Linked DNA regions of Homo sapiens: all the other regions are linked to region 1. The links come from fine-mapping of genetic effects on gene expression. A gene starts in region 1. Each other region holds a variant in brackets. All regions are shown on one strand. Distances are between the middles of the regions. Region 1 holds the start of COL6A3 (collagen type VI alpha 3 chain). Region 2 holds the start of MLPH (melanophilin). Region 3 has its middle 21 kb from the start of COL6A3. Region 4 has its middle 27 kb from the start of COL6A3.

The links. PIP is the estimated chance that this variant, and not a neighbour inherited with it, causes the effect.
Region 2: its variant is fine-mapped to the expression of COL6A3 in whole blood (TOPMed, PIP above 0.99).
Region 3: its variant is fine-mapped to the expression of COL6A3 in T cells (TOPMed, PIP 0.96).
Region 4: its variant is fine-mapped to the expression of COL6A3 in whole blood (TOPMed, PIP above 0.99).

The regions. Positions count from the first base shown.
Region 1 is chr2:237,412,741-237,415,423 of GRCh38, reverse strand. It overlaps COL6A3 (collagen type VI alpha 3 chain), which reads left to right and starts at 1,260. Exons shown (of 44, transcript NM_004369.4): 1 at 1,260-1,471.
Region 2 is chr2:237,485,110-237,487,792 of GRCh38, reverse strand. MLPH (melanophilin) reads right to left here and starts at 542. Exons shown (of 16, transcript NM_024101.7): 1 at 356-542. LOC105373957 (a long non-coding RNA gene) reads left to right here and starts at 645. Exons shown (of 2, transcript XR_001739962.2): 1 at 645-982; 2 at 1,072-2,093. RefSeq lists an enhancer at 707-1,675. The variant G/A (reference allele first, on the strand shown) is at 1,234.
Region 3 is chr2:237,433,851-237,436,533 of GRCh38, reverse strand. No RefSeq gene overlaps it. Among named protein-coding and RNA genes, the nearest start is that of COL6A3, 21 kb to the right of the region's middle. The variant CGTTTATTATCTCCTG/G (reference allele first, on the strand shown) is at 1,282.
Region 4 is chr2:237,439,723-237,442,405 of GRCh38, reverse strand. No RefSeq gene overlaps it. Among named protein-coding and RNA genes, the nearest start is that of COL6A3, 27 kb to the right of the region's middle. The variant C/A (reference allele first, on the strand shown) is at 1,109.

The DNA of each region.
Region 1 (2,683 bases):
ACAATGACGATGTCACTTACTCTCTCGGAACTTCTTTTCTTTTCTTCTTTTCTTTTCTTTTTTTCTTTTTTCTCTTCTCTTCTCTTCTCTTCTCTTCTCTTCTCTTCTTTTCTTTTCATTTCTTTTCTTTCTTTCCTTTTTCTCTTTTTTGGAGTCTCACTCTGTTGCCCAGGCTAGAGTGCAGTGGCGCCATCTCGGCTCACTGCAACCTCTGCCTCCTGGGTTCAAGCAATTGTCCTGCCTCAGCCTCCCAAATAGCTGGGACTACAAGCGCCTGCCACCATGCCTGGCTAATTTTTATATTTTTAGTAGAGATTTAGTAGGGGTTTCACCATGTTGGCCAGGCTGGTCTCCAACTCCTGACCTTGTGATCTGCCTGCCTTAGCCTCCCGAAGTGCTGAGATTACAGGCATAAGCCACCGTGCCCAGCCTGTTTCTTTCATCTGTAAAATGGGACCACAATTTCACCTAATAAAAGAAGACATCTTTCTATTTAAAAGGGCTTAGGGTGTTGATGTTTGTGATAAAGGAGAGAATGTATATTGAAGTGTTTTGAAATGTGCAAAGCTTTCTAGAAACAGAAGTTCTTACTCAAGTATTTTCCCGAAGCTTTGGCAAGATAACCATTTTTATTACCCCGTCTGTGCCTAGAATGGGCCTATAAGCGCCACAATCAGAATCATTAGATATAGAAATTAAGAGAAATGTAGCCTCCTTTTTTTTGCCGGTGAACAGAGCTTTGGTTAACAGAAAACCAAGGCGATTTTAATTGCTGGTTTTTCTATTTGAAGGGGGAAGTTATTAGTAGAAGTCTCAATTCAGAAACTTCAAGAAGAAATGGGAGGGTGTGGTGAGGGTAAGCGGGGGACTGCATTTCCTGTTTTCCTTTCAGATGGTGTTGGAAAACATTGCAGGAAAACCATGGATACCCACGAAGAAATTCCAAAATTTATTCTTTTTGACGCCAAGGGCCCAGCCCAAAAGGTGACGAGTAGGAGTGGTCAATTTTTTTTTTTAAGAGTTGGGGCTTGCAGGAGTCCAGCTAAACGCTTGTAGGGTGAAGACAGAATTCAGAGGGTGACATCAGCCTGAGCGGGGGCCAGAAGAAACAGAGTGGAGGAGTCTGGTTTCATTTACAGTTTTGGGTCAGTTCTGCAGTGAGGAGGGGGAGAGGAGGGGTCCGGGAGGGAGGAGGAGGAGGAGGAGGAGCTGGAGGAAGCCCTGACTGGTATCCCTGGCCCCAGTCCAGTTTGGAGCTCAGTCTTCCACCAAAGGCCGTTCAGTTCTCCTGGGCTCCAGCCTCCTGCAAGGACTGCAAGAGTTTTCCTCCGCAGCTCTGAGTCTCCACTTTTTTGGTGGAGAAAGGCTGCAAAAAGAAAAAGAGACGCAGTGAGTGGGAAAAGTATGCATCCTATTCAAACCTAATTGAATCGAGGAGCCCAGGGACACACGCCTTCAGGTTTGCTCAGGGGTAAGTGTGATTTCTCTTCTGTTTTTCCAGGTTTGGGGCTAGAAGGAAATGCTCTTAACCTGAAGTGATCCTTTCTAGGTAGCGTTAGTGGCTCTTACGTTCATGCTGATCGCCAGTTTTCTGTACATGTTTTAGGTCTCTGGAAGATTCCGCTGATTTTTCTTTCTCACTTTATGGCAATGGGATTTCCTTAAATTGGTTAAGGTCATGATTGCCTAAGAGTGTGAGCACTTTTCCACCGCGTGTCTGTGGCTGCTACACGCGCCCTGTGCATTCCGGGCGGCAGTGTGTTTCGGCCCATGATTTATTTAAGTTACTGCCGCCTTCTAAAACCCATTCGGGATCCGCTTTGTTTGCAGAAGCGTCTTTGCTGAGGACTAGCATAGCTCCCTGCCGGGCGGCTCCGCTGGGAGATGTTCTCTGAGCTCTCTGGGTGGTGACACTAGGTCAGGGTGCAACAACCTGCATGGGTTTTCTGCCCAGGGCCGCCCATGGGAAGGTCCTGGTGGAGCACATTTGCTGCTTTCACAAGATTGGAGTAACTCTGGTGCTCAGGATCAGGGCCAAGTAAAGGGTCGCTCAGTCATTGCCGTCAAGCTTTCGTCTTTCCAGGAACCTGAAGTCTCTATTGGAGACTTTGTCCCTTGGGGTTGCTTAAAGGAGTTGCAGGGGTCAGAGGAGAAGAAGGAATTGGGCATTTGGGCAGCATGCTGAGTGTCTAAGGCAGGGCCCCTGGGGCTGCAGGGCCAGCCCATGCTGCACAGAGGTGAGGCCAGTGCCGAGCTGGGAGGCCCCGAGGGCTGTTCTCTGGCCCGGAGGATGCAGGGTGGGGCTCGGGCCCTCTCTTGCTGAGGATGGACACGTTCGCTGACAGTGGCCAGCCTGTTTGGGGAACCTGTTTCAAGGGGCCTACTATGTTGGATAATGAACGGGTATTGAAGTATGGGTGGGGTCACTGGGAGGGACTAGGGAGTGGTTAAAGAAAAATCTGCTTCCACAGGAAGCCCCAGGAGCCAGTTTCGAGGCCGGTGCAGACCCCAGGAGCAAACCCCTCTGAGCACAGGGGAGTCTGCTGTGCTGGATGGGGAGGCAGGGCTGTGGCCCCGGCTGACTGGCTTCTCTCCCCACATACAGCTCACCCCGGCGAGGACCACAGGGTGCTAGAGCTGCAGGGTGCTCAGAGCTCACGGGGATGGTGGATGCTCAACCTGG
Region 2 (2,683 bases), 72 kb before region 1:
CTTGGCATCAGCAGCCTTGGCCCAGTCTGCATGGCAGACTCGCAATGGAGGCAATGGAGCTTCTGATTAAAACCAACCGTTTTGCCCAAAATGGGGATCCCCCGCCATCCCACTCCCACCCGTGCCTGCACCCAGAGCAGTCTGCTCAAAGAATCCAGGTGAAGCCTGGGGGACTAAGGCTGGGTGGCTGGGAACGCGCTGTCCTCACCAGCCTGGACCGAGGCCGGGAGGCTGGCGGCTGGGGGCGTTTTCACACCAGTGGGTCTGCACGCGACACCGCGCACCCCCCAAAGCCTAAGCCCCGAGTCCTGGGCGCCACCCTGGCCCCGCTGTTCCCTCTTCTCAGTGCACTCACCGGACCCTCTCCGGGGGACGCTCAGTCCCTGGTCCAGCACCTGGGAGAGAAAGGAGGCGACGAAGCAGGGCGTCAGGCCAGGGCGTCAGGTCAGGGCGCCGGGGCAAGGCTGGATAATGGGGGCAAGCAGGGCGCGGGGCGCAGAGCGGCTGGTTAGCGCCTGGCTCTCCGGGGCAGGCGGGCAACTGGCCACGTCCCGGCGCCTCCCGCCCGAACCACGTGGGCTGCGCCCCGCTCCGCCCAGCTCCGGGAGCGCGGACACCTCTGGATGCCCTGCCAGGCAGAGGGCGGAACGGAACGGACACCTGGGGCGCCCGCGCGGGAAGCGCCAGTGCGGGGGAGAGCCCCGGATACTCGACCCCCAAGCCAGTTTGGGGAGAAAGACGGCGGCGGGGAGGGGAAAGTTGAGCACACAGCTGCGATTCCCGTGAGTTGCGGCGACTTTGCATAGGTGACATCGCGCCGCGGTCCTGCCTTGGGCACGGTGGGACCCGCTTGCTGAGCGCGCTCTAGAGCGCGCGGCACATCGTCGAAATTTCTAACTCTGCAGGGAAAGCGCTATGTACTTCGGCTTTACAAATGGGGAAACTGAGGCTCAGAAACGCGCCCTACCAAAGCCACCGACCAGTAAGTGGCAACGCCAAATAATAAATAGGACTTTAAGCCCAGGGCTTTCTGCTGCAGAGAGCGTACCCTCACCCCTTCGATTCTGCCAGGCATCAGGACCAGGAGGGTCCCGCAGCCGCGGGCAGCCCTGCTGCGGGGAGGAGACCGAGGCCTTGCCCGCCAAGAAAAAGTCAAGATCCGCGGGCAAATGGGGCAGATGTGGAAGCCAGGACGCGCGGCGCGGTGGTTCCAGGACCGAGGACGCGCTGCGG[G/A]GAACGCCTGGGAGCTCCGCGCCGCTGCGCTCTTCTCCTGGACTCTAGGGCCGGCCTTTGGGTGCTCAGCGGGGCCCGCAAGCTCAGAGGGTCCCAAGGCGAGCCGCCGTCTCCAGTCCGCCCGGCCTGCCTGTCCTTCCGAATTCCAATGGACATTAGGGAATTGCCCTCCTCCCTCATCCTCCAAGACTGGGCGCTTCAGAATTTTCTCTCCCTCCCCCTCCCTCTCCCTTGTCACTTAAAAACTCACATTCTGTTCTCCAGGAACCGCTTTTGCAATTCAGTTTTCCTATCTGCAAAATGATAGGAATAAAGCCATTAGGTGAATGAATAGATACTAGTATCTCCATTTAACAGAAGAGGAATCAAAACCTTATAGGATTGTTGTGATATCACATTAGATTATTTGTAAACAGCTTTCAAAAGGCTGCAAAAGAACAAAAAAGAATGTTGTTGCCTGCTGAGCCCAGGGGAACACTGTAGGTGAATCAGGGTATTTCAGGCCCCTGGGCTGCTTTGAGACAGGTGCTCTTACCAAACACCATCAATTGTTGAGTGTGAACCCTGGAATAGAGTGAAGCTTACACTGAAGCCAGTATTTCCACATCCCATATGATCTGGTGCTTATGTTTTTCATTTCCTTACCTCCTTGCCATATACTTTACTGTTACTTGTTAAGATTAATAAATCCCTTAAGAGTTGATGTAGGGACTTAAGTTCCTTAAGGGCAGAAGTTTTTAAAAATGTTTTTAATACTTTAGTGCTTATTTATTTGAAGTAGTGGTTTTAAAAAATATACAACTGACACACGCTGATATATAAGGTATATAGTAAAGAATATAAGGAGTATAAAATGAAAAGCCAAATTCTCTCTTATTCCATTACTAACCTCCATGACCAGAAAGCAATCATTATTAATGGTGTCTTCTATATTCTTTCTGAATGGTGTGTGTGTGTGTGAGGTTAAGCATGTGGGCTCAAACCAACTGCAAGAGTCGGAATTCCAACTAGGAGTGTGGCCCACAAGCTGTGTCATCTTGGACCTGTTACTGAATCTTCTACTGACTTTTTTCTCTCTTCTCCATGATGAGAATAGTAATGGGAGTTACACATAAGGGTGTTGTGAATCAATATCCCTGCAGCTTGGGTGAGACACCATGTGGTGAGTGCTTGGTAAATATTAATTACTATTCCTGTTGATCTACTTCATCCTTTTTTGGTTGCAGAGTATCCAATGTGTGAGTTACCATAATTACTTACCAGTCTTCTATTGATGGACAGTTAATTTTTGATTTTTTGCTATTTAAATGATTCTGCCATAAATATCATCCTAGATAATTCTTATTGACACCTATCATACATAGGATGACACATGAATATCATTGTACATACATACTGATATATCTGTAGACTAAAAGCCTATAGATTTGGATTTTCTGAGTCAAAGGAT
Region 3 (2,683 bases), 21 kb before region 1:
TGTATCTGTTTTTCCCTTAGGATGGCGCCGCTGCCTGAACCAATCTTCAGGCTCATAAACCCTTGGCTGGACCCTACACTGCACTTGCTCCCTCCTGGGGCTGGCCTTCCTCCGGGGTTGACCAGCTATCTGGCATGGCCACACGCCCCACCCCATGAACGACTCTTTGAACACCCAGTCCCTGGTGACAAAGCAGGAATTCGGTGCCCCCTCCTGGGTGAGCATTTCAACAGGGCAGAACTGTACTCCAAGGAAGGGGCCAGCATGATAATTTTCAGCAGTGTGTAAAGTGAGAAGGGAGCATTTTGGCGAGGGGATATGTACTACTGAAGTTTAGTAAAAATACACACGAACTCTTAAAAGGAGTAGTAAAAATAAAAGAGCAAAGAAAGAGCAGAAACTAGATAAAGGAAAGGGGTGGGGAGAGAGTGTACCAGAAACACTATTTGTCCTCAAAAGTGCTAACATTTTCTGTTTGGAGCCTGTTGCCTAGTGAAATTCCACAACCAGGGTGTCATTCCTGCTGCGTGCAGGCTTCTCCAGAAGCCTCATGAGACCAAGGCCTTCTACTATTTTAATATATGGGTCAATGGAAAACAGTTGGAAATCAGGTAGTTGGTTAAAATTTCACTGGCCAGGCCCTTGTTTGAATAGACACATTTATAATTCAGTTAATGCTCTAGTAAAATTACACCGAGGTGGTTAGAAAATTTAAGGATTTTTTTTTTTATTTTGGAGAGGAGAAGAGGAGAGGTCAGAAATGTCCAGCTGGGAAGGCACTGAAAGACCCTGTGGCCCACCCCTCCCTTGTTGGTGAGCCAGGGGACAGAATTGAGACCTGTCCTCAGGTCTTCTGGCTCCAGCTTCTGTCCCACTTCCCTGGCAGAGGTCACGACTCTGCAAATGTGTTTTGCTTCAGAGAAAAAATTTGCTCCAACATGTAAAAATTCAAATCTCACAAAAAAGGTGGAATTTCTAGCTCCTTTGAGAATGCTGGAAGTTCTGCTGCCTGTGATGCTGTCCCTGTAAGGGTGGGCTGGCACAGCCATGCAGAAGCCAGGGGACCACCGTCCACCTGCTCTGGGGCCCCATGGGATTTGAGTCCTGTGGTGGCAGAGGAAAGCAGCTCACCCTTAGTTCAGCTGCACCTCACCCAGCAAAGACGGCCCCTACAGGTCCTAAAGGGGCAAGGGACGCAGCCAGGGAAGCTTCTTGCAGACTCTCTGAGGTCTCCGAAGTCATTGTTGACTCCCAGGGGCCTGACCCCCATGTGCACGCCTT[CGTTTATTATCTCCTG/G]GGGTGATGTGGGAGCACGTGGGGCATAAGGAAGGAGGGCTCGGGAGCACCCCTGAATATGGTCATTACTGGCATCGTGAGCCCCTCCCACCACTTCCTGCCACCCCCACTCGCTTTCTAGCCGTACGGAAATGTTTGTGGTTCTCTGCATCTACCACAGGGTTCCAGGGCCCACGTCGTGGCTCTCACAGTCCCCTGTGCTGGGATGTCCTGCCCCCGCACGGCTGCTCCATTTGAACAACTCCCACACATCCTTCCAGACCCAGATTAGGTGTCTTCTTCTCCAGGAAGGCTTTTATGACTCCAGCTGACTAGACTGAATTAGACCTTCAGGGGCGGAGCTAGGGAAGGGGTGGGGGATGGTGGTGGAGGGGAGCTAGCAGTTTTAATAAGCCCCCCAGTGGCTCTGACAGGCAGCCAGGCTTGCCAGCACTGCTCTGCTGGAAGCATCCTGCAAAAGCCGTGCTTATTTATTTGCTTTTGTGAGCTTCATCAGTTCTTCCAATTTTCACCCTGAAAATGATCCTTCAAACTCAGCCGCTGGATAAGACACCCTGAAATGGACATGCCTAATGTGAAACGTAGGTGCTTGATTGGGTTGGGCTGTGATCGTCTGTAGAAGGTTGACTAAATGGGTGTCCAGTGTCTTATTTGTAGCTCAGAGAGACAACCTTCTGGCTACAGTGGTAAGAACTGATGTCTCCTCCAGGTGCTTTTGATGGGCCAGGTGTGTTCCAATTACTTTAAGTGTTATGCACGCATGCACTCTGCACTGCACCCTTATGTGCAAGTGTGACTATTATCCTTATTTTACAGAGAAAGACAGTGAGATCTGGTGAGGTTGAGTACTTGGCCCCCGGTGACTTATCACACCTGGGATTTGATCCAGACCCTCTGGCTTACACCTGTCTTAGGTCTGGCTCCGTGGAAACAGTGCCTGAGACAAATTCTCAGTGCAAGTGACTGATCAAGGGATATGGATGCTGTGGGAGAAGCTAGCACAGGAGGGAGGGGAGCGGGAGAGGTCGGGGAGGAAGTGGGGCAAGGGGTGTGCAGGGGAAGTGCAGCCGAGCCGGCTCTCATGTTGCTCAGGGGCATTCATTAGATTTGCCCTGTAGTGCTTGGCAGCCTTCCCTTTGCCAGTCTTTGGCTTTGGGCCTTCTCTGGAGGGAGACATAGTTCTTGGGACCTCTGGGGAGGGGCCGCTGTTGCTTAGGGATGATTCTCCAGGGAAGGCTACCTGTGCGAGCGCTTAGCAGCACCTGCAGCAGCTGGGAGATGGGCTCTCCCGTGGACAATGAATCCTAGGGGCTGGAGGGGGAGTAGCCAATGATGTGGCCATCACCCATCACAGCCCTCATCCTTAGCCATGATACAGAGTGCAGAG
Region 4 (2,683 bases), 27 kb before region 1:
CGGTGACTTGCACAAATGTCCCACTCAAGAGGGAAAGCCCTGACGAGTGTGATGATTCGATCTTTTGAAACATACAGAGGCAACAGTGCACATGAGGAGAGTGAAAATGGCTGGCTATTACTGCATTGCATTTAATTCTGCATTCACTTCCCAGATATGTAACTGGGGTCAATATATTTGGCAGTGGGTTCAGCACCCATGCTGAATCTTGGAGTATGGAGTAAGAACAATTGTGATGAGGAAGACCAAGTAGAGTGCTCTGAAGTTCTACTCCCCACCCACCATGACAGTGAATCACAAATCCATACTCTGGAAGGGAGGAGGATGGATCAGGCTCAGCCTTGGGGATTTTAAGAGTGTAGGATTGGTGGTCAGACCCACCACATCATATAGCTGGGTGTGCCTGGGGAAGTCCATTTTCACATGGAAATGGCACAGCTGGCATGGAGCCTGAACAGGACCAGAGGACATAAGTGAGCTATACAAGCAGTGGTCCCAGATGACCACGTCCTCTGCCACGATGGGCCAGTGCCCTCCCCCAGCTAGCATCAACAGCCCTGTGGGTGGGTCTGATAGGCTCTGCCAGAGGAGAAACAAAAAGCTGAAGCCTGGTTTACAGATGGTTCAGCTCAGAATCTGGAGGCAGGCTGGAAAGCCTCCTTCTCCCTTTGATCTTAATCATCACAGGCTTTTCTGCCAACACATCTCATTCTCTCTGACTCTGTCTTCTTGTCTGCCTTGCAGATGACCCAATTCCCCCTCCCTCCTCCCACACATACACACAACCAGCAAGAACAACAATAAAAAAGAAATCAAACAAACCCTTAAACCCCATCTAAATGAGCAACTTAGATGAATTTTGTAAAAAGATAATTTACGAAGCGTGAATAGAGGGCTGTGAGAATAGGTCACCATGAGAAGGTGCAGCAAAATTAAAGTGTGGGAAAAATATCAGTACAAGTGTTGGAAGAGAAGTAGGAGAAATCTCCCAGAAAATAGTACAAAAAGACCAAGAAATAAAGAATATGGGAGAAAAGCCACAAAGGCTCAAGTCAAAAGCTCTGATGTTTGACTATCCGCAGTTTCAGAGACTACAATGTGGGGACAG[C/A]CTTTCTCTCTCCCTGATGTGGCACTCACACTTCCCTGCTCCTCTCCCAGATCTCTCTCCAGGAAGGGCCCTGTGACCCTTCTGATGGGTAAACGTTGGAAGGTTACTGGGCAGGGGCAGCTCTGTCTTTCTTCCTCTTCAGAGGGAACTGCCTCCTGCTAGGAGCATTTTCTACTCTGTCCCCCTGTCAGGAGGTCTGCTGTGACCCCAGTGCCACTGAAACTGGGTGGATGAGTCAACCCAGTTCTGGAGCTGTGTGATTTCTGAATCTGTCTTATTTCTAGAACTATAACATTTCTGGAGCTGTGCAATTTCTGGAGCTGTCTTATTTCTGGAGTTGTGTCATTTCCGGAGCTGTCTCATTTCTGGAGTTGTGTCATTTCTGGAGCTGTCTTGTTTCTGGAGCTGTCCTGTTTCTGAAGCTGTCCTGTTTCTGAAGCTGTCTCATTTGGTTTTCACCATGAGGCACATCCTCCAACTTGGCCTCCCCCAGTAATATAGGTGATGTTTTCTATCTCCCATCTGGCACTTCCTTGTTTTTCAATTTGTTTTAAATTTGTCTTCCCATGCCTCAAAAAGACAACAAGCAAGACCAGGCAGCATGGAGGGGAAGACATTTTCAATGACAGAAAGAGAGTGTGACAAAGATCACTCATGAAGAATTAAATACTAGGCTTCTCAGAATCCTCACCAGCAGCACTGGATGCTAGAAGCCAACGGAGCGAGTTCTAAAGGAAAAGGACTTTAGTTTATGACACCTTAAACTCAGTATTCAACATCCTTAAACTATTGCTCAAGTGTGAGGGAATAACAAAGATTTTTTCACGCGTGGACTAACTAAGCAAGTTTACCTCTCATGCATCTTTCCATGGGAGGTGAATGGAGGACATTCTCCCAAAAGAGAAGAAATTAAATCAAGAAAGAGCCAGACCTGACTTCTAGCAGTTGGTGCATTTGATTGTAAGAGCACCATACTCTCTGCAAGGATGGTGGCAGTGGGGCACAGGCTGGAGGGAAAGGCTGAGAGGAAGTCTCTGGGAAAGGAGGAAAGAGTAAAAGAGATAAAGCAATTGAGATCCTGGAGGGTCTTGCAAAGATATAAGGCAATTAGCAGAGTGCAAAAAGGACTCATGTCCAGAGACAATTCCTTTTTAGTTGCATTGTTGGCCTTCCAGAGAAGGAAATGCAACACCAGCACCCTACTCAGCTGTGCAGTGACACACATTTACATTGTGTGTGTGTGATATCTGTGTGTAGCAGTGATAGGTTTTTAACTTTCAGATTCAATTTTTGGATAATTTACTCCATATGGAAACAGCATTGAATGTTAATATTCCCAAATTTTTAAAAATAATAAAATAAGAGCAATGATTCCACAGAGTGGGGTGGTGGAAGGTGCTGAGGAGGGGCAGAGGGAAGATGAGGGCATCATGTCCTATTATAACATGGGATTCAAGAGGCATAGCAAGAGTTAATGGTTGGTTGTTTTAGGCCCTTTCTTTTTCCTTATATTTTCTTTTCTTTTTCTTTCTTTTCTTTTTTCTTTTTTGTTTGAGACAGGCTTTTGCTCTATCA